Linked DNA regions of Homo sapiens: region 2 is linked to region 1. The links come from fine-mapping of genetic effects on gene expression. A gene starts in region 1. The other region holds a variant in brackets. All regions are shown on one strand. Distances are between the middles of the regions.

What was found. PIP is the estimated chance that this variant, and not a neighbour inherited with it, causes the effect.
Region 2: its variant is the best candidate, but not a certain one, in a credible set for the expression of RPS20 in testis (GTEx, PIP 0.52).

Annotation. Positions count from the first base shown.
Region 1 is chr8:56,070,068-56,080,394 of GRCh38, forward strand. It overlaps RPS20 (ribosomal protein S20), which reads right to left and starts at 4,439. Exons shown (of 4, transcript NM_001023.4): 1 at 4,314-4,439; 2 at 3,993-4,092; 3 at 3,628-3,701; 4 at 2,987-3,205. The coding sequence starts at 4,316. The coding sequence ends at 3,023. SNORD54 (small nucleolar RNA, C/D box 54) reads right to left here and starts at 3,834; the gene lies at 3,772-3,834. CERNA3 (competing endogenous lncRNA 3 for miR-645) reads left to right here and starts at 4,525. Exons shown (of 2, transcript NR_149110.1): 1 at 4,525-4,813; 2 at 4,940-5,207.
Region 2 is chr8:56,098,614-56,108,940 of GRCh38, forward strand. It overlaps the pseudogene NPM1P21. Among named protein-coding and RNA genes, the nearest start is that of MOS, 10 kb to the right of the region's middle. The variant G/C (reference allele first, on the strand shown) is at 5,640.

The sequences.
Region 1 (10,327 bases):
AGGTACTGAACTGATCCCCCACAGATACTTAGGAAACACTGTAATTCAATGCAGTATCGTGGGCCAGCTAGAGCACATCCTGTATCAGTGAGAGAAATCTATTCCCTTAACAAGTTAGTCTTGGTTTCTTTGGAAAATGTCTCCCAGAGACAGTGAACACCCATATATGCATTTGAGATAGATACTATTAGTATCCTCATTTGGCACATAACTGAGGCTCAAAGTCAAGTAACTTGATCGTCTCCATAACCAAGTAACTAATTTTGGAGCCATCTGTCTGACTGCATGGCTAGAGATTCTACTTCTGTACTCTTGCCTGTTCATTTTACATCCACAGAGCATACACACAGGCACTCTACGGATGTCATGTGAAGAAATCTAATCCAGTCTGGGTATAGTGGCTCTTGCCTATAACCCTAGCACTATGGGAGGCCGAGGAGGGTGGATCGCCTGAGCATAGGAGTTTGAGACCAGCCTGGGCAACATGGCAAGACCCCATCTCCACAAAAAAAGCCAGGCCAAGCGTCAAGGTGTGAGCCTGTAGTCCCAGCTACTTGAGGTTGAGGCAGGAGGATCGGTTCAGCCAGGGAGTTGAAGGCTGCAGCGAGCCATGTTCGCACGACTGCACTCCAACCTGGGTGACACAGCGAGACTGTTTCCATTTAAATTCAAAAAAAAAAAAAAAAAATTCTGACCCAGCAATGAACAGCCATGGTGGTTTCTGTTCCCTTGGTTATTGCTAGCTTACATTTCTACACCAGAAGCAGTGCTCTGCAAATCCAAATAGAGTAAGCACTGCAGAGATATCCTATTTTCAACCTTCCTTTAACTCCCATCCATACAAGATGGCCTGTTAACTTGCATAGAATTATTGGCATCATTACCACTATTTAATCTATCCTGAATTCCCTATATTCAAAGGCCCTGCAGTTTTATTTCCATGCAGGTATTTTTAAGTGTTTGAGAAATTGAAGATAACAGCAGTTTCAAATTTTTTAGTGCTATTTTAGCTGTAATACAGGTTCTCAATTACGTATAGCTTTAATCCAACACTTTAACCATTGTGAAAAAACACAACTGCTCATGTTCACAATTCCGTGAAAGCCATGAAGCTGTCCTTCCACTATTTTCTGATTTACTGAAGTGTATTTTTCACAGTATATGTTCTCTGGACTTTAGTGACATTTTTTTCAGAATTTCATTTCCTCAGTCAGTTCTCAAGACATGTGTGCTCTAAAGACTGCTATGCTGCACTAAAAGTTCATAGGTATTTGTCTGGGGGCCACGTATTGATAGGTATTCCATTTTAAAATGGTCTTATTAACTGATAGCTAAACAGCTCCCAAAGATCAACTGTTTGGTTTAAATTTAGCAATGTGGCATAATTCATTCCAGACTCAGTTCCATTCAAATCCTTGATGTTAACTGGGTTTGTCTTGAGATCTGAAGTAGACTCAGAAGGAATTGGATGTTGGGTAACAGCAGTAGGGGAGGGGCAAGGGGTGACTCCAGTTTGAACTGTGAGACTTCAGTAGACAATGGATTCAGACTAGGAACACAGGACAGAGCTTCTGGGAGGGAAGATTTCATTTTAGACACATTAGCTTTTCAGCTGTGGGTTGCAGGTGCCTAGCATGCAGTTGGTTGTATACAGAAATCTCAACTGAAGGTCAATTTGAAAAGATAGCAGAGTTCAGCGTGAAAGCCTAGGCCCAAATCCAAAAAGAAAAAACTTGAATTACCCAACTTTGATCCTATTAAAAATTTCAAAAATTTTCTGAAGGCAATCTTAACAATTTGTAGATGTTCCATTTTTCCACAATAAATCTATAGAAACTTTCCCCAATAAGTTTAGCAAACCTGTAAGGGTATCTATCTGATTTTAAATTCTAGGCTGGGTACAGTGGCTCACTCCTGTAACACCAGCAGTTTAGTAGGCTAACACAGGCTGATGGTTTGAGTCTTCAGAGTTCCAGACCAGCCTGGGCAACATGGCAAAACCTCACCTCTACAAAAAACAATTAGCTGGGCATGGTAGCCACATGCTTGTTAAGTCCCAGCTACTAGGCAGTTTGAGGTGGATTGCATGAGCCCAGGTCAAGGCTGCAGTGATCACACCACTGCACTCCAGCCTGGACTGCAGAGACCCTGTCTAAAACACTGAAAATATAAGTATTTTTAAAAAATGTAAAAGTGAAAATGGGCCAGGCATGGTGGCTCATGCCTGTAATCCCAGCACTTTGGGAGGCTGAGGCAGGTGGATCACCTGAGGTCAGGAGTTTGAGACCAGCCTGAACAACAGGACAAAACCCCATCTCTACTATAAAATAAAAAATTAACCAGGCTTGGTCGCAGGCACTTGTAATCCCAACTACTTGGGAGGCTGAGGCAGGAGAATTGCTTGAACCTGGGAGGCAGAGGTTGCAGTGAGCCAAGAACACACCACTGCACTCCAGCCTGGGCCACAGAGCAAAACGCCGTCCCCCCCCCCAAAAAAAAAAAGTGAAAATTTTATATTTAAAATATAAAACACTGAAAATATAAGTATTTTTAAACTAAGTTTTAGTTCCTAAAACCCTAAAACTTAGTTTTAGTCCTGCCTCTGCCACTTAATCCTTTTTTAAGGACGTTAAACTTGGTTAATTTAAAAATATTAGTTACTAGCTTTTTAACACGTGCCTACTAGCGCACTAGGTTCTCAACCATGGGTGTGCATTACAAACGCCCCAGAAACCTTAACACCCCATACCAATCAGAATTTATCTAGAGTATGCCAAAGTTATAAACTGCCAGTGTCCAATAAAACCAGTCAGGTCTCACATATTATGTAGTTAACGGAATCCAGTTTTCAAATGACTCAAACGACAACGAAAACAGGATAGACCACTCTAAGATACCCATATATTCCACCTGAAAAGTGGAAGTCTCATAGTACACCTTTATATTCCTAAAATCTGCCAGTATTCTGAATAAAAACCAACAGAAGTTAACAACTGGTCATCAATTTATTAAAATAGTTGACTTAAGCATCTGCAATGGTGACTTCCACCTCAACTCCTGGCTCAATACTGATGGAAGTAATCTGCTTAACAATCTCAGAAGGACTGTGCAAGTCAATGAGTCGCTTGTGAATTCTCATCTGGAAACGATCCCACGTCTTAGAACCTTCACCACAAGGAGTTTTTCTTGTAGTGATTCTCAAAGTCTGTAACAAAAGACAAAGGAAACCAAGTGTTTATCGTTTTATACTTATCCCTAGAACATCTGGAAAATCATTACTTCTAATCATTTCATTAGTTTCCCTTTGGTATGATTCCAATTTACACTAATAGATTTTCAGGTACCATGGGTTGAAAATGCCAGGTCTGTTTTCACTGTGCTAGGACACCACCCTTAGAGCTTGCGCCTGTTAAGCACCAAAGCACACCAAGAACACAGCAACAATAATTCAACAATCATATCTAAACATTAGCTACTTACTAGGAACCGCAATCTACCACCGATTTCTATGTGCGTTTGTAGACAGCATCAGTGTTAACAATTTTGGCAGCCGAACTCCTTAAAGAACCTGAATTTATGCAACATCCGGAAGCAACTCCTACTTCCTGCCCCTCCGATTTACTTTACCTTGGTAGGCATTCGAACTGGTCCTTTCACTTTGAGATTCTTTTCTTTTGCGCCTCTTATCAAGTCAGCACACACTACAGGAAATAAAAGACCTCTCAGTATAATCGAAACAATTAAAATCGGCTTAAGGCCTTCACTTCTGCTGGCTCAGAATAGCGTATAAAATTATCACCGTTACTCAACACAATAGGTACCTCCTCATCGCCAGCTGTATGACAGTAAAAGCAATTTTAAGCCACGCTTTACTTTTTTAAGTAACTTGTCACTTTAGTTCTTGCAGTCCACCTTCTACACTAACATTAACGAGTAAAGCTCGTCGCTTTTCGCCCAATTCCCCCTCCCCCCCGCATAACGAATGCACTGACCCTTTTCCAAGGATTTTACGTTGCGGCTTGTTAGGGTGATTCGAATTCGGTGAATTGCCACCTCCGGCTCCACGGGTGTTTTTCCGGTATCCTTAAAAGCCTATTATTAGATACATGAAAAAGAACAATAAGCCAAAAATGGTCTGCCACTTCTGGAGAAAGGCAGCTTCCGGAAGCTTCCCGCGTTTCCCCACCATTTCAGGAGCGCCTTTCCGCCCCTACACGCCCCGGCATCTGCCCTCAGGAGCACGAACTCGAAACCGGGGTCCCCCCGGCGCCCGAGCCCTGCGTTGCGCCGCCCGCCGCCGACTGCCGCCTCACCATGGCTGTTGCGCGCGGGCTTCCTGACCGACTTGTTCCTCGGCGAGAGCGAACAGCGGTGAGTCAGGAGCAGGAGCGTGCGGACCAAAAATCCTCAGCCCTTACGACCGCGTCTTCCTCAAAAAGAAAGGGGTGGGACTTGAGCAACGCTTATATAGCACGCTTGCATCCGGGTCCCACACGCCCCGGAACAGGAAATATCCCGGGCCCTAGAGGCGGTCGCACAAGGGCGAGCTGGAGCACTAGTGGAGTTGGCGGGAAAGGCACGGCTGCGGGCGCCCCCTGTCCGCACGGAGGAGCCGAAGTCCCGCAGGGTGGGGTCCCCGCCTGCGCCGAGAGGGCCACCTGGTCGAGAGAACAGGCGACACGGAAACCTGAGAAACTCCTCTGTCTGGTGCACCTAACCCTCTTCCTCATAAAGTGCACACGAACTCTGGTTTTTCCGTTGCAAATTTTGCTTTCTACATAGACCATACCATTCGTTGCTCTCTGAGGATGAGGTAACTTCTCTGAGCTTAGCTGACATGAGCATTGGCAGAAATGCTTCTCGTAATCTGGATAACTTACGTTAGAATTAGTAAGCAGTTATTTTTCATAGCCTGAAACGTCCTGTTGTGATATTTCAGCTCCTGGCTTCCCAGTCCAGCAGAAGTATCTACATCTATTTCTGGAAAGGACCTGAACTTGGCTTCTCGTCCTTCTGGAAAGTGAGGCGAAAATGCCAGGCTGCGCAGCTATCCTGAGGCCCGGCCTGGAACCTGGCTAGCCACCCAGTCCTGATACCTCATCTCCTTTCTGTTGGATAAAGTCATTGGATAAGATCCCCCAGGGTCTTCTTAATACTGAACATCTGTTCATAATCACATAAGTGACCAAGTATAGTGGAAAACCCGAATGGTCAACTGAGCTGAGCAGTGGGAGAGAGCGCAGGGTGAGCTCACCTACACCTGAGCAAGAAGCCGGGGCTAAATACGTGGAAATCACTGAGATGGATTTTGATACAGGGCAGAAAGAAGAGTAAAATCATCTCATATTACTTTCCACCTGAAGCTCTGAGCCGAAAGAGTTATTTGCTCAAACACTCTGAAATGGGGAGGGACAGAGCTCTGACCCCTCCGTCCAGGCCTGTTTGTTGTTTTTTTTTTTTGTTTGTTTTGTTTTTTTTTTTTTGTGAGACGGAGTTTCATTCTTGTTGCCCAGGCTGGAGTGCCATGGCGCGATCTCGGCTCACCGCAAACTCCGCCTCCTGGGTTCAAGCGATTCTCCTGCCTCAGCCTCCGGAGTAGCTGGGATTACAGGCATGCGCCACCATGCCCGGCTAATTTTTTTTTTTTTTTTTTTTTTTTTAGTAGAGACGGGGTTTCTCCATGTTGATCATGCTGGTCTCAAACTCCAGATCTCAGGCCCGCCTCGGCCTCCCAAAGTGCTGGGATTACAGGCGTGAGCCACCGCGCTCGCCCCGTCAGGACTCTTTCTTGAGGTTTTGTCTTCTGTTCCTTGGTAGGAAATTATGTTTGAAACTTTAATCAAATAATAGCATTGTCTTATTTGGTGATAATTGGAACATAACTAATAACTGGGTTTCTTTGGCTCACGATACGTATGAGGTTTTTTGCTGCCATTTTAACAATTATTTTAAATTTTCAAATTTGGATGTTTTCCAGTTCAGTTTTTTGGGTTTTTTGTTTGTTTGTTTTTTGAGATGGAGTCTCGCTCTGTCGCCGAGGCTGGATGCAGTGGCACGATTTTGGCTCCCCGCAACCTCCACCTCCTGGGTTCAAGCAATTCTCCTGCCTCAGCCTCCCGAGTAGCTGGGACCACAGGCACGTGGCACCACTCTCAGCTAATTTTTTGTGTTTTTACTAGAGACGGTGTTTCACCGTGTTAGCCAGGATGGTCTCAATCTCCTGAACTCGCGATCTGCCTGCCTTGGCCTCCCAAAGTGCTGGGATTACAGGTGTGAGCCACCTATCCCGGCCCCAGTTCAGTTATTTTTAAATGTAATCCATTGTCTGTAAATACTCTCTTAGTAGAATTTTCAGCAGAAATTCTGAAAACCTGCATTCTTATTGTGCTAGCTGTAACCTGAGACTTCATAACTTAGAGGTTTAACTTATTGGTATGGCTGTGTGCGACAAATAGACAAAAGCACAATTGCCCTGCTCCCTGGGGTGTGATCAGCCACCGCTGTAGTACTGCCTGGAGGTGACTGTGCATATTTTAAGTGAACATATACAGCGGCATTCATGTTTTACTAATGCTCAAAGATGACTGGAAATTCAATGAAGGAATTTCATTGAGAAGTACAATTGTAATTTTGTACAAGTGTGATTTTTTTTTTATAACAAATCTGGTACATCTTTTTCTTAGGCTTACCTCATCCTTTAAGTATTTGAGGAACTGGTGAACAAGTTAACTACTTTGATAGTAAACGAGGAAATTTCTTTATAGAGAAAAGCAAAATGTGGCCCAGCAGGTATGTGAAAAATGGCTGATGTGACTAGAACTAAGGAAACAAATGGTTAAGATAATATTAGACAAAAGTAATGGAAATTTTTTTTTTTTGGAAAACAGTATGGAGGGTCCTCAAAAAATTAAAAATGGAACTTCCATGTGAACCAGCCATCCCACTTCTGGGTATATACCCAAAGAAAATGAAATTGGTATCTAGAAGAGATACCTGCACTCCCATGTTTATTGCAGCATTATTTACAGTAGCTAAGGTCAGGAAATGACCTAGGTGTCCAGCAACAGATGAATGGATCTTTTTTTTCTTTGGAAACAGAGTCTTACTCTGTTGCTCAGGCTGGAGCGCAGTGGTGCGATCTCGGCACACTGCAACCTCCACCTCCTGGGTTCAAGCAATCCTCCTGCCTCAGCCTCCCAAGTAGCTGGAAGTTCAGGCAGGCACCACCATGCCCGGCTAATTTTTGTATTTTCGGTAGAGACGAGGTTTCACCATGTTGGCCAGGCTGGTCTTGAACTCCTGACCTCAGGTTATCTGCCCACCTCAGCCTTCCAAAGTGCTAGGATTACAGGTGTGAGCCACCGTGCCCAGCCTGAATGGATCAATATTATTCAGCCTTAAAAAAGAAGGAAATTCTGGCCGGGAATGGTGGCTCACACCTGTAATCCTAGCCTTTGGGAGGCTGAGGCGGGTAGGTCACCTGGAGTCAGAAGCTCGAGATCGGCCTGGCCAACATGGTGAAACCCTGTCTCTACTAAAGATAAATATACTGTGTGAGTTCACTTATATGTGGAGTCAAAAAAAGTCAAATTTGTAGAAGCAGACAGTAGACTACTAGAGTCAGGAGGTGGGATCTAGTGAGGTTTGGGAATTTTAAAGTTTATTAGTTTTAGTTTCAAACACTTTGCCGTATTTTTCTCTTGAAAACTAGCAGCTTCTGTGGCCCCCAATTTCTCTTTGAAATGTTATGTTTGGGCCAGACGCGGTGGCTCACACCTGTAATCCCAGTACTTTGGGAGGTCGAGGTGGGTGGATCACCTGACATCGGAGTTCGAGACCAGCCTGACCAACGTGCTGAAAACCTGTCTCTACTAAAATACAAAAATTAGCCGGGTGTGGTGGCGGGCTCCTGTAATCTAAGCTACTCGGGAGGCTGAGGCAGGAGAATCGCTTGAACCCAGGAGGCAGAGGTTGCAGTGAGCCGAGATCGTGCCATTGCACTCCAGACTGGGCAACAAGAGCGAAACTCCATCTCAAAAAAAAAAAAAAAGTTATGTTTGAATACTAGATGTGAGATATCCATTGGAGAAAAAAGTAACAACAATAAGCCAAAAATAAGAAGAAAATACATAATTCCATCATTCAATGTATGTTTCTTTTCTTTTCTTTTTTTTTTGAGGAGTCAGTCTTGCTCTGTTGCCCAGGCTGGAGTGCAGTGGTATGATCGCAGCTCATTGCAACCTCTGCCTCCCAGGTTCAAGTGATTCTCCTGCCTCAGCCTCCCGAGTAGCTGGGATTACAGGTACCCACCACCACGTCCGGCTAACTTTTGTATTTCAGGTGAGACAGTGTTTTGCCATGTTGGCTAGGCTGGTCTCGAACTCCTGACCTCAGGTGATCCACTGGCCTTGGCCTCTCAAAGTGCTGGGATTACAGGCATGAGCCACCACGCCAGGCCAACATGTCTTTTAATGACGGTGTTATCATGAATTGTATGAATGATTCTTTTAGGATTTGTTGAACCTGTCTTCTGTTTTTAGGCATTTAGGCTGGTTTTCCCATTTTGCAGTCTATAAACAATATCATGAGGTAAATCCTGGTAGATCAGGGTTTCTCAATCTCAGCACAATGGACATTTTGGGGGCCGGATAATTCTTTGCTTTGGGGGACTGTCCTACGCATTTAGGAGGTTTGGCGACATTTCTGGCCTCTATACTCACTAGGTGCTAGGAGCAACCCCACTCCTCCACTGGTGACAATCAAACATGCCTCCAGACATTGTCAACAGTCCCTGTGGGTAAAAATAATGCCCGGTTGAGAGCCACTATTGTAGATGAATATTTTAGCTCCTACTTAATGCCTTAGGTCAATTACTAAATAACTTATCCTCTGATGGCTTAATCAAAGAATAAGCACATTTAAAATACTTTGGTATTAAGTAAGTTGCCTTCTGGGAAGGTTGTACCCAAACAGATATTTCCTCCAACAGCCGAATGAGGATTTCGGTGTGAAAAACATTGAATTAGATAGCAGGTTCATTTTAACTTTTGAAATATTCCTAACAACTTTATGAAATTTGTGTTTTCAATATCCCTATGTATAGCCTTTCTTTACTAATTTTTGCAGATCTTTTAAAATTATCTTGTAAAGACAATTATCTTGTAAAGACAATTATCTTGTAAATACTGCAGGTATTTGTGTGGGTCTGTGGATGGCCATCTACTGGTCTTTCACTGCAATGACAGTGTCATCCTACTTTCTCCAAAAGGAAATTTACAGCAGTCAAAAACTACTGAATTCATGGTACACATGTGTAAATGTCTGAATCACATTGAAAAAGGCAAATTGTGGAATGAATGTGGATGAGTCTGTTTAGACACAACAGTAGTCCCCACCTTATCCCTGGTTTCACATTCTGAGGTTTCAGTTACCTGCAGCACAGTTCAATAAGATACTTTGAAATCAGAGAGACCACATTCACATAATTTTATTACAGTATATGACTACCATTGTCCTATTTTATTATTAAAGTATAATAAAATATTATTAATCTCTTCATGTACCTAACTTATAAATTAAACTTTATCATAGGTATGTATGTACAGGAACAAACGTAGTATATATAGAGTTTGGTTCTATCTGTGGTTTCAGGCACCCAGGGTGTCTTGGCACCAGCTCTGTGGATAAGGAGAAACTCCTGTATTTTATTTGTGGAATTTAAAAATCTAAATACAACATTTGTATGTTAAACTTCTTCAGTCTGAAATGCTTTCAGCCATCTACTGGGGAGCTTGGCACTACCTCTGTGGATAAGGGGGAACTCCTGTATTTTATTTGCAGAATTTTTTATCTAAATACATATTTTTTGTGTTAAACTTCTTCAGTCTGAAATTTAAGAATAAAAACCAGAGAGAGTATGTGAAGATTTAGAACGTTACTCGGCATATGAGAGTAGCTAGCACCAGGCCAGGTGCGGTGGCTCATGCTTGTAGTCCCAGCGCTTTGGGAGGCTGAGGCAGGTGGATCACTTGAGGCCAGGAGTTCTAGACCAGTCTGGCCAACATGGTTAAACCCCATCTCTACTGAAAGTACAAAAATTAGCCAGGTGTGGTGGTGCACACCTGTAGTCCTGGCTACTTGGGAGGCTGAGGCATGAAAATTGCCTGCCTGGGAGGTGAAGGTTGCAGTGAGCCGAAATTATGCCCCTGCACTCCAGCCTGGACAGAGTGAGACTGTCTCAAAAAAAAGGAAGAAAAAGAAAAAGAAGAAGAAGGAGGAGGGGGAGGGGAGGAGGAGGAGGAGAAGGAGAAGGCGGAAGGAGAAGGAG
Region 2 (10,327 bases), 29 kb after region 1:
GTTTGGATCATGGGGGCAGATCCCTCATGAATGGTTTGGACCATCGTCTTGGTAATAAGTGAGCTGTTGCTCTGAGTTCACACAAGAGCTGTTCATTTAAAAGTGTGTGGCACCTCCCTCACACTCTCTCACTTGCTTCTGCTTTCATCACGTGAAGGGGCTGCTCCCTCTTCACCTTCTGCCATGATTGTAAGCTTCCGGAGGCCTCCCTAGAAGCTGAACACATGCCAGCACCGTGCTTCCTGTAAAGCCTGCAGAGCCATGAGCCAGTCAAACCTCTTTTCTTATAAATTACCCAGTCGCAGGCATTTATAGCAATGCAAGAATGGCTTAATACAGGCACCACATTATACTTCTCATGTAACTTCTTTTTCTCAATTACAGTATTCTAATATTTGTACCAAGTAATGCCTTAGACACTAATTTTCTTTTTTTTAATGGATTAGATACAATAAGTTGTTTAAACATTTAAAGTAATGAAAGTGAAAGTAGGGTATTTCTTGCCACCATGACTATCCCAGGTGGCGGAGTGTAAGGATTAAGGACATAGGTTCTGCCCTGTCATTTGGGTACATGACCCTCCGCCAAGTTACTTACTCTTTCTGGGTATCAATCTCCTGATCTTTAAATAAATAATCATAGTAAATAGGTTAGTGGTGAGATTTTAGTCTATGTAAAACACTTTACAGTTTTTGGATTATAATACTCTCAATAAATTTTAGCTATGACAATAATAAAAAGTGATGATTTTTCTGAGCCGTGAGGACATTACAAGAGTGATGAGTGTTATGAAGGAGAAGTGTAGTGTGACGGGAACATTTACCAGAGGGGCATAACTTAAACGGGTGCATTTTAGTCTTTTTCCTTCATGGCCTTGTCAGCTGCTCCCTACCTTTTTTTTTTTTTTTAGACGGAGTCTCGCTCTGCCACCCAGGCTGGGGTGCAGTGGTATGATCTTGACTCACTGCAACCTCTACCTCCCGGGTTCAAGCAATTCTCCTGCCTCAGCCTCCTGAGTAGCTGGGACTACAGGTGCCTGCCACCATGCCTGCTAATTTTTGTATTTTTAATAGAGATGGGGTTTCACCATGTTGGCCAGGCTGGTCTTGAATTCCTGACCTCAGGTGATCCAACTGCCTCGGCCTCCCAAAGTGCTGAGATTACAGGCATGAGCCACCATGCCTGGGCTGCTGCCCTCTACTTTTGACTTTAGAAAGTGGCTGGAGAAAAGTGAATTCCTGGCACAGTTAAAAGGATGTTTACCATGATTCAGTTAGCTTGAGAAAACTGGATGAAAAGGAAGGCAAGTAGTGTGATACACGAGAGCAAGGAACAGTTAGGGAAGTGGATTAAAGGCGCTTTAAGGCAGGTTGTGCAGATTGAGGTTTAACTTTATGTTTCAATATTTGTTACTATTACATTCTATTCTTTTTGAGTAAGCAATACATTGACATAAAATCAAATATAAATGGTATGCAGTGAAAACTCCCATTCCTATCCTTGCTCTGTCTGTCTCTTTTCCTTACCACAGATAACGACTTTTTTTTTTTCCTTTCTGGAGTTATTATGTAAAAGTATAAAAAACATGAATATCTATTTTTATTCCCCCTCTTTCCTTCACAAAAGGAAGCATATTGTAACATACTCAGTTGCATTCATTACCATCTTACATCTTGCTTTTAATTTAAAAACATATTATGCAGCTTTATCAGTAACAGTAAAACGCTTCTTTTTTTATTTCTTCTCATGTACATAGTGTTTTATGATATGGATGTATCATCAGCTAACCAGTTCTTATTGATGGAGACTTGACCTGCTCTCATTTTGCTCTTACCAAAATGCTGCAATGAATAAACTTGTTCATATGTCTATATAAATAAATCTCCAGAAGTATGATTATTGGATCACAGGGTAAATAATTTTGTAATTTTTTTATTCATTCAAATATTTATTGAACAGCTAAGGAGATACAAAGGTGATTTAAAACATGGTCAGAGGTGGCCGGGCGCGGTGGCTCACGCCTGTAATCCCAGCACTTTGGGAGACCGAGGCAGGTGGATCACGAGGTCAGAAAATCGAGACCATCCTGGCTAACATGGTGAAATCCCGTCTCTACTAAAAATACAAAAAATTAGCCGGGCATGCATGCGGGCGCCTGTAGTCCCAGCTACTCGGGAGACTGAAGCAGGAGAATGGCAGGGTGAACCCAGGAGGCAGAGCTTTCAGTGAGCCGAGATCGTGCCACTGCACTCCAGCCTGGGAGACAGTGAGACTCTGTCTCAAAAAAAAAAAAAAAAAAAACATGGTCAGAGGTGATGCAAATGCACAAGTAATAGAAAGCAAAGGGCAAGGTTCACCGAATCACAGCAGTCAGAAGAAAGTGCTTTAGGGAACCAAGAGTGAGATTGTTTCCAGCCTGAAGAGGCATGGGTGGCAAATCAGAAAAGGGGATTGGGATTAAAATAGAAGACTTCAGTCTGGATTGTTGATGACACTCAGTATGGACTATATTGGTCTCTCCTTTTCCTTTCTCCCCATCTTTGGGCTTAATTTACCAGTAGTGCCCAGGACTGTTCAATGCACTTTTTCTATACTTGCTTGCATTTTTGCTCTGATGTCTTCTACAGAACTAGGTCCTTTTGGTGTTTTAGGAGTTTTTCCTGTTTTTTGAAGGAGTCTTGTCCTTTTGATCTTGGTGTTAATGATGGTTTTGAGTCTTTTCCATTCTGATTTAATTTTTGTCCTTTTTTGGCTAGAGTGTCTTGTATAGATTGCTTCACTGGTGCTTTCTCTTCAGTTCCCTCATCATCAAAATCATCATCATCTTCATCATCATCATTATCATCATCATCATCATCATCTTCATCAGCAGCAAGTTTTACTTTTTTCTGTGGAACCTTGCTACCACCTCCAGTAGCAGACCGCTTTCCAGATATACTTAAGAGTTTCACATCCTCCTCCTCTTCATCTTCTGACTCTGCATCTTCTACCACAGCTACTAAGTGCTGTCCACTAATATGCACTGGCCCTGAACCACACTTCAACTGTAAGACCACTGGTTATGTTATTTCAAATCCCCCAAGGGAAACCGTTGGCTGTACAGACATTTTCAAAGTTGCCAGTGTTACTTTAATTGGGCTGCCTTCGTAATTCATGGCCTCTGCTTCAACAATGTGCAATTCATCCTTTGCACCAGCCCCTAAACTGACCGTTCTTTTTTTTTTTTTAGACAGAGTTTCGCTTTGTCGCCCAGGCTGGAGTGCAATGGCACGATCTCGGCTCACCACAACCTCCACCTCCCGAATTCAAGTGATTCTGCTGCCTCAGCCTCCCAAGTAGCTGGGACTACAGGCATGTGCCACCATGCCCAGCTAATTTTTGTATTTTTAGTAGAGACGGGGTTTCACCATCTTGGCCAGGCTGGTCTCAAACTCCTGACCTCGTGATGCACCCACCTCAGCCTCCCAAAGTGCTGGGATTACAAGCATGAGCCACCGCGCCCAGCCTTAAACTGACCATTCTTAAAGATAACTGGTGCTCATTTTCATCATTATCCACCTTAAAGTGATAATCTTTGTTGGCCTTCAGTTCACAACCGAAAAGATAGTTCTAGGGCCTCAGGAGGCTCATGTCCATGTCCATCAAATCTTCCATCGGGTGGCAGCACGCACTTAGGTGGCAGAGAAGGGGGACAGAGATAAATGACCACTGCTCAAGAGAACAGCTGCACAGGATGGAATCACACCAGCAATTTTGTAATTTTAATAGATGTTCCCAGATTATTTTCCCTAAAGTCTGTACTTCCACCAGCAATATCCAAGAGTGCCTAGGCATTTCCCCATGGTCCCCATGCCTCACCAATTATATTTGTCAAATTTTTGTATTTTGGCCATAATGGAAAATGGTATTGAAAGGTAGTTTTAATTAGCAATTTTCATATATTTAAGAATCACTCATATTTCTATGTCTGTGAACTGATCATTCATCTGTTGGTCTTTTCCTTGTCAAATTCCAGAAACTCTTTTTACACTAGAGGGATTCACCCTTTGCTGTAATATGAGGTACAAATCCTCTCCTCCAGTTTGTTATTTCTCGTTAATCTTTATTTATATTGTTAATTTTCTTTCTATGAAGACATGTTCCCTGTTTTTGTAGTTGAAAACATCAATTGTTTTATTTATGGCTTTAGGAAGACTTTTCTACTATGATGTTATAAAAGAATTTACTGTTCTGGTACTTCTTATGACTTCATTTTTGACACTTAAGTCTTTGATGCATTGGGGAATCTATCCTGATTGACACGGTTTGAATCTATGTCCCCACTCAAATCTCACATTCAATTGTAATTCCCAGAGTTGGAGGCAGGGCCTGGTTGGAGGTGATTGAATCATAGGGGTGGATCCTCTGTGAATGATTTAGCACCATCCTCTCGGTGCTGTTCTCATGACAGGAAATGAGTGAGCTATCATGAGAACTGGTTGTTTAAAAGTATGTAGCACCACCTGCCCCCCCCAGTCTCTCTCTTGCTCTTGCTCTACCCATTTAAGACATCCCTGCTTCCCCTTCGCCTCTACCATGATTGTGTGTTTCCTGAGGCCTCTCCAGAAGCTGAGTAGTTGCCAGCATCATGCTTCCTGTACAGCCTGAGGAACTGTGAGCCAATTAAACCTTTTCTTTTTAAACCACCCAGTCTCAGGTATTTCTTTTTTTTATTTATTTTTTATTTTTTTATTGATCATTCTTGGGTGTTTCTCGCAGAGGGGGATTTGGCAGGGTCATAGGACAATAGTGGAGGGAATGTCAGCAGATAAACAAGTGAACAAAGGTCTCTGGTTTTCCTAGGCAGAGGACCCTGCGGCCTTCCGCAGTGTTTGTGCCCCTGGGTACTTAAGATCAGGGAGTGGTGATGACTCTTTTTTTTTTTTTTTTTTTTTTTTTTTTGAGACGGAGTCTCGCTCTGTGGCCCAGGCGGGAGTGCAGTGGCGCAATCTCGGCTCACTGCAAGCTCCGCCTTCCGGGTTCATGCCATTCTCCTGCCTCAGCCTCCCGAGTAGCTGGGACTACAGGCGCCCACCATCACGCCCGGCTAATTTTTTTTGTATTTTTAGTAGAGACGGGGTTTCACCGTGTTAGCCAGGATGGTCTCGATCTCCTGACCTTGTGATCCGCCCACCTCGGCCTCCCAAAGTGTTGGGATTACAAGCGTGAGCCACCGCGCCCGGCCTGGTGATGACTCTTAACGAGCATGCTGCCTTCAAGCATCTGTTTAACAAAGCACATCTTGCACCGCCCTTAATCCATTTAACCCTGAGTGGACACAGCACATGTTTCAGAGAGCACAGGGTTGGGGGTAAGGTCACAGATCAACAGGATCCCAAGGCAGAAGAATTTTTCTTAGTACAGAACAAAATGAAAAGTCTCCCATGTCTACTTCTCTCTACACAGACACGGCAACCATCCGATTTCTCAATCTTTTCCCCACCTTTCCCGCCTTTCTATTCCACAAAACCACCATTGTCATCATGGCCCGTTCTCAATGAGCTGTTGGGTACACCTCCCAGAAGGGGTGGTGGCCGGGCAGAGGGGCTCCTCACTTCCCAGTAGGGGTGGCCGGGCAGAGGCGCCCCTCACCTCCCGGA[G/C]GGGGCGGCTGGCCGGGCGGGGGGCTGACCCCCCCACCTCCCTCCCGGACGGGGAGGCTGGCCCGGCGGGGGGCTGACCCCCCACCTCCCTCCCGGACGGGGCGGCTGGCCGGGTGGGGGGCTGACCCCACCTCCCTCCCGGACGGGGCGGCTGGCCGGGTTGGGGGCTGACCCCCCCACCTCCCTCCTGGACGGGGCAGCTGGCCGGGCAGAGGGGCTCCTCACTTCCCAGTAGGGGCGGCCGGGCAGAGGCGCCCCTCACCTCCCTGACGGGGCGGCTGGCCGGGCTGGGGGCTGACCCCCCCACCTCCCTCCCGGACGGGGCGGCTGGCCTGGCAGGGGCTGACCCCCACCTCCCTCCCGGACGGGGTGGCTGCCGGGTGGAGACGCTCCTCACTTCCCAGACGGGGTGGCTGCCGGACGGAGGGGCTCCTCACTTCTCAGACAGGGCGGCTGCCAGGCAGAGGGTCTCCTCACTTCTCAGATGAGGTGGCCGGGCAGAGACGCTCCTCACCTCCCAGATGGGGTCGCGGCCGGGCAGAGGCGCTCCTCACATCCCAGACGGGGCGGCGGGGCAGAGGCGCTCCCCACATCCCAGACCATGGGTGGCCGGGCAGAGACGCTCCTCACTTCCTAGATGGGATGGCGGCGGGGAAGAGGCGCTCCTCACTTCCTAGATGGGATGGCGGCCAGGCAGAGACGCTCCTCACTTTCCAGACTGGGCAGCCAGGCAGAGGGGCTCCTCACATCCCAGACGATGGGCGGCCGGGCAGAGACGCTCCTCACTTCCTAGATGGGATGGCGGCGGGGAAGAGGCGCTCCTCACTTCCTAGGTGGGATGGCGGCCGGGCAGAGACGTTCCTCACTTTCCAGACTGGGCAGCCAGGCAGAGGGGCTCCTCACATCCCAGACAATGAGCGGCCAGGCAGAGACGCTCCTAACTTCCCAGACGGGGTGGCGGCCGGGCAGAGGCTGCAATCTCGGCTCTTTGGGAGGCCAAGGCAGGCGGCTGGGAGGTGGAGGTTGTAGCGAGCCGAGATCACGCCACTGCACTCCAGCCTGGGCACCATTGAGCACTGAGTGAACGAGACTCCGTCTGCAATCCCGGCACCTGGGGAGGCCGAGGCTGGCGGATCACTCGCGGTTAGGAGCTGGAGACCAGCCCGGCCAACACAGCGAAACCCCGTCTCCACCAAAAAAACACGACAACCAGTCAGGCGTGGCGGCGCGCGCCTGCAATCGCAGGCACTGGGCAGGCTGAGGCAGGAGAATCAGGCAGGGAGGTTGCAGTGAGCCGAGATGGCAGCAGTACAGTCCAGCTTTGGCTCGGCATCAGAGGGAGACTGTGGAAAGAGAGAGAGAGGGAGAGAGAGAGGCAGAGGGAGAGGGAGAGGGAGAGGGAGGAGAGGGAGGAGAGGGAGGAGAGGGAGAGGGCCAGTCTCAGGTATTTCTTTATAGCAATGTGAGAACAGAATAATACACTAATAAATGATGTGAGGTCTACATCTAATTTTGGTAGTTGGCCACACAAGTCTCCCAGAATAATTTTATTGAACAGTCCATCTTTTTTGGCCAGGTGCCGTGGCTTGTGCGTGTAATCCCAGCACTTTGGGAGGCCGAGGCAGGAGGATCTCAAGCTCAGGAGTTTGAGACTACCCTGGGCAACACGGCTAAACCCCGTCTCTCCAGAAAATATAAAAATTAGCCAGGCATGGTGGTGTGTGCCTGTAGTCCCAGCTACTTGGGAGGCTGAGGTGGGAAGATCACTTGAGCCCAGGAGGCAGAGGTTGCAGAGAGCTGAGATTGTGCCAGTGCATTCCAGCCTAGGCAACAGAGCCAGACCCTGTCTCCAAAAAAAAAAAAAAAAAAAAAAGAAAAAGAAGAAAAAAAGAAAGTCCATCTTTTCTCCACTGACTCAAGACACCATCTTTATTGCAGACAGAATTCCCATATGTGCTTGTGACTGACTTCTTGGACTTCTATTCTGTGTATTTTAATTTTAATTTTAATTTTAATTTAATTTTTTTTTGAGACAGAGTCTCACTCTGTCACCCAGGCTGGAGTGCAGTGGCACGATCTTGGCTCACTGCAACCTCTGCCTCCCAGATTCAAGCAATTCTCGTGCCTCAGCCTTCTGAGTAGCTGGGATTACAAGGGCCCACCACCATGCCTGGCTAGTTGTCATATTTTTAGTAGAGACAGGGTTTCACCATGTTGGCCAGGCTGGTCTCAAACTCCTGGCCTCAAGTAATCTGCCCACCTCGGCCTCCCAGAGTGCTGAGATAACAGAGGTGAATCACCATGGCTGACCTATTCTCTTGAAATGGTCTGTCTATTCATATATCATGCCACAATATTTTTATTATCTAGGTTTTATAGAACATATTAATATCTGATAGAGCTAGTGCTCCCTCATTGCCTGTCTCTTTCTGAACTTTCTTGATCTTTTTAAACAAATAAATTCTTTAACATAAATTTTATGGCCAGGAGCGGTGGCTCACACCAGTAATCCCAGCACTTTGGGAGGCCGAGGCGGGTGATCAGTTGAGGTCAGGAGTTTGAGACCAGCCTGGCCAACGTGGTGAAACACCGTCTCTACTAAAAATACAAAAATTAGCTGGGTGTGATAGTGTGGACCTGAAATCCCAGCTACTCAGGAGGCTGACGCAGGAGGCAGAGGTTGCGTGAGCCGAGATCGCACTGCTGCACTCCAGCCTGGGCGACAGAGTGAGACCCCGTCTCAAAAAAAAAAATTTACAGTCAGCTTGTCTCATTTCCAAATTAAACACATCAGTTTTATATTTATATATAAATACTAGTTTATATTACTTTATATATAAAATTGGAATTGTTTTAAATATATGTTAACTTAGGGCGAATAGTCATCTTTATGGCAAATCTTTATTCAAGTATATAGCAGTCTTTTCATTTCTTTGAGGCCTCTTATATACCTTTCTAGTATTTTTAAGATTTTGCCCTAAAGATTTTGCACGTTTTTATTAAGCTTTAACTAGGTATTTTTATTTTTTAGTTTGAAATAATTTCAAACTTACAGAAAAGTTGCAACGGTAATACAAAGATCTCCCAAATTCTCCTTGTCAGGGCTCTGAGCCCAAGCCAAGCCATCGTATCCCCTGTGACCTGCACGTATACATCCAGATGGCCTGAAGAATCACAAAAGAAGTGAAAATGGCCAGTTCTGATGACGTTCCACCATTGTGATTTGTTCCTGCCCCACCTTAACTGAGCGATTAACCTTGTGAAATTCCTTCTCCTCGCTCAGAACCTCCCCCACTGAGCACCTTGTGACCCCCGCCCCTACCTGGAAGAGAAAAACCCCCTTTGACTATAATTTTCCACTGCCCACCCAAATCCTATAAAACAGCCCCACCCCTATCTCCCTTCGCTAACTCTCTTTTCGGACTCAGCCTGCCTGCACCCAGGTGAAATAAACAGCCTTGTTGCTCACACAAAGCCTGTTTGGTGGTCTCTTCACACTGATGCACGTGACCCTCCTCATTCAGCAATGGTTCCCCGATTGTTAAATTTGACATTTACTTTATTCTTTCTACATACAATTATTTCTTATTCTGAATCATTTGAGAGTAAGTTGAAGACATAATACCTTATTACTCTTTTAGCATTTCACTGAGTATTTCCTAAAAACAATGGCTTTCTCCAACATAACTGCAGTGTAACTATCAAAATCAAGAAATTTTGTTATAATACTCCCGTGTAATCTAGAGATCTCATTTAAATGCATCAGTTGTCCTAATAATGTTTGTTATAGGACCACAATCCAATCCTGGATTATGTGTTGGACTGGGTTGTCATGTCCTTTTATATGGAACAGTTCCTCAGTCTTTCCTTGTCTTTTATGACCTTGATACTTCTGACATGAGCAGGCCAATTTGAGTGTATAATTGTTTCCTCTTGATTTGGGTAAGGTTATATGTCTTTTGCAGGACTACCACAGAAGTGGTGCTATGTTCTTCTCAGTGCGTCATATCAGGAGGCACGTAATGTTTGTCAGTTTGCCCCATTACTGGTGATATTATCTTGAGTAAGATACCTTTCTGTATATCTGTCTACATCACTTGTAAGATAATGTCAGTATGACTTCTTCACTGTAAGGATAATTATTTTGTGCTTATTTGCAATTAATATTTGTTGGTATTCTATTGTAAGGTAGAGCTTTCCTTTCTCCAACATTTATTTATATAATTATTTATATCATTATGGATTCCTATTTCCTTCATTATGACTATTCATTTCTAATTGATTTACCATCATTAATCATTTTAATGCTAAAATTATCTCAGGTCAGCCAGTAGGAGATCATTCAAGCCAGCTCCTGTGTCCTTATAACAGGTGTCTATCATTCCTGAGCATTTCTTTATTTGGAGGCACAAGATGTTCTGGTTCATTTTGTATTTTCCCTGCTCTGGAATCGCCATTTCTCCAAGAGGCCCTGGTTTCCTCCTGTTGTGAATAAAAATTCAGAAACTAAAAAGTCAGAATTCAGAACTAAAGTTTGGTGTTAATCTGCTCCAGAGTGTCATTACTTTAGGTCCTGTCAAAGGACAGAGCTAGGAAATACATGTATGTGCGTACACACACACACAGACCCACACACATTAATGTCTGTTAGTATATCTATCCCTATCTCTCCTTTCATCTACCTCTAT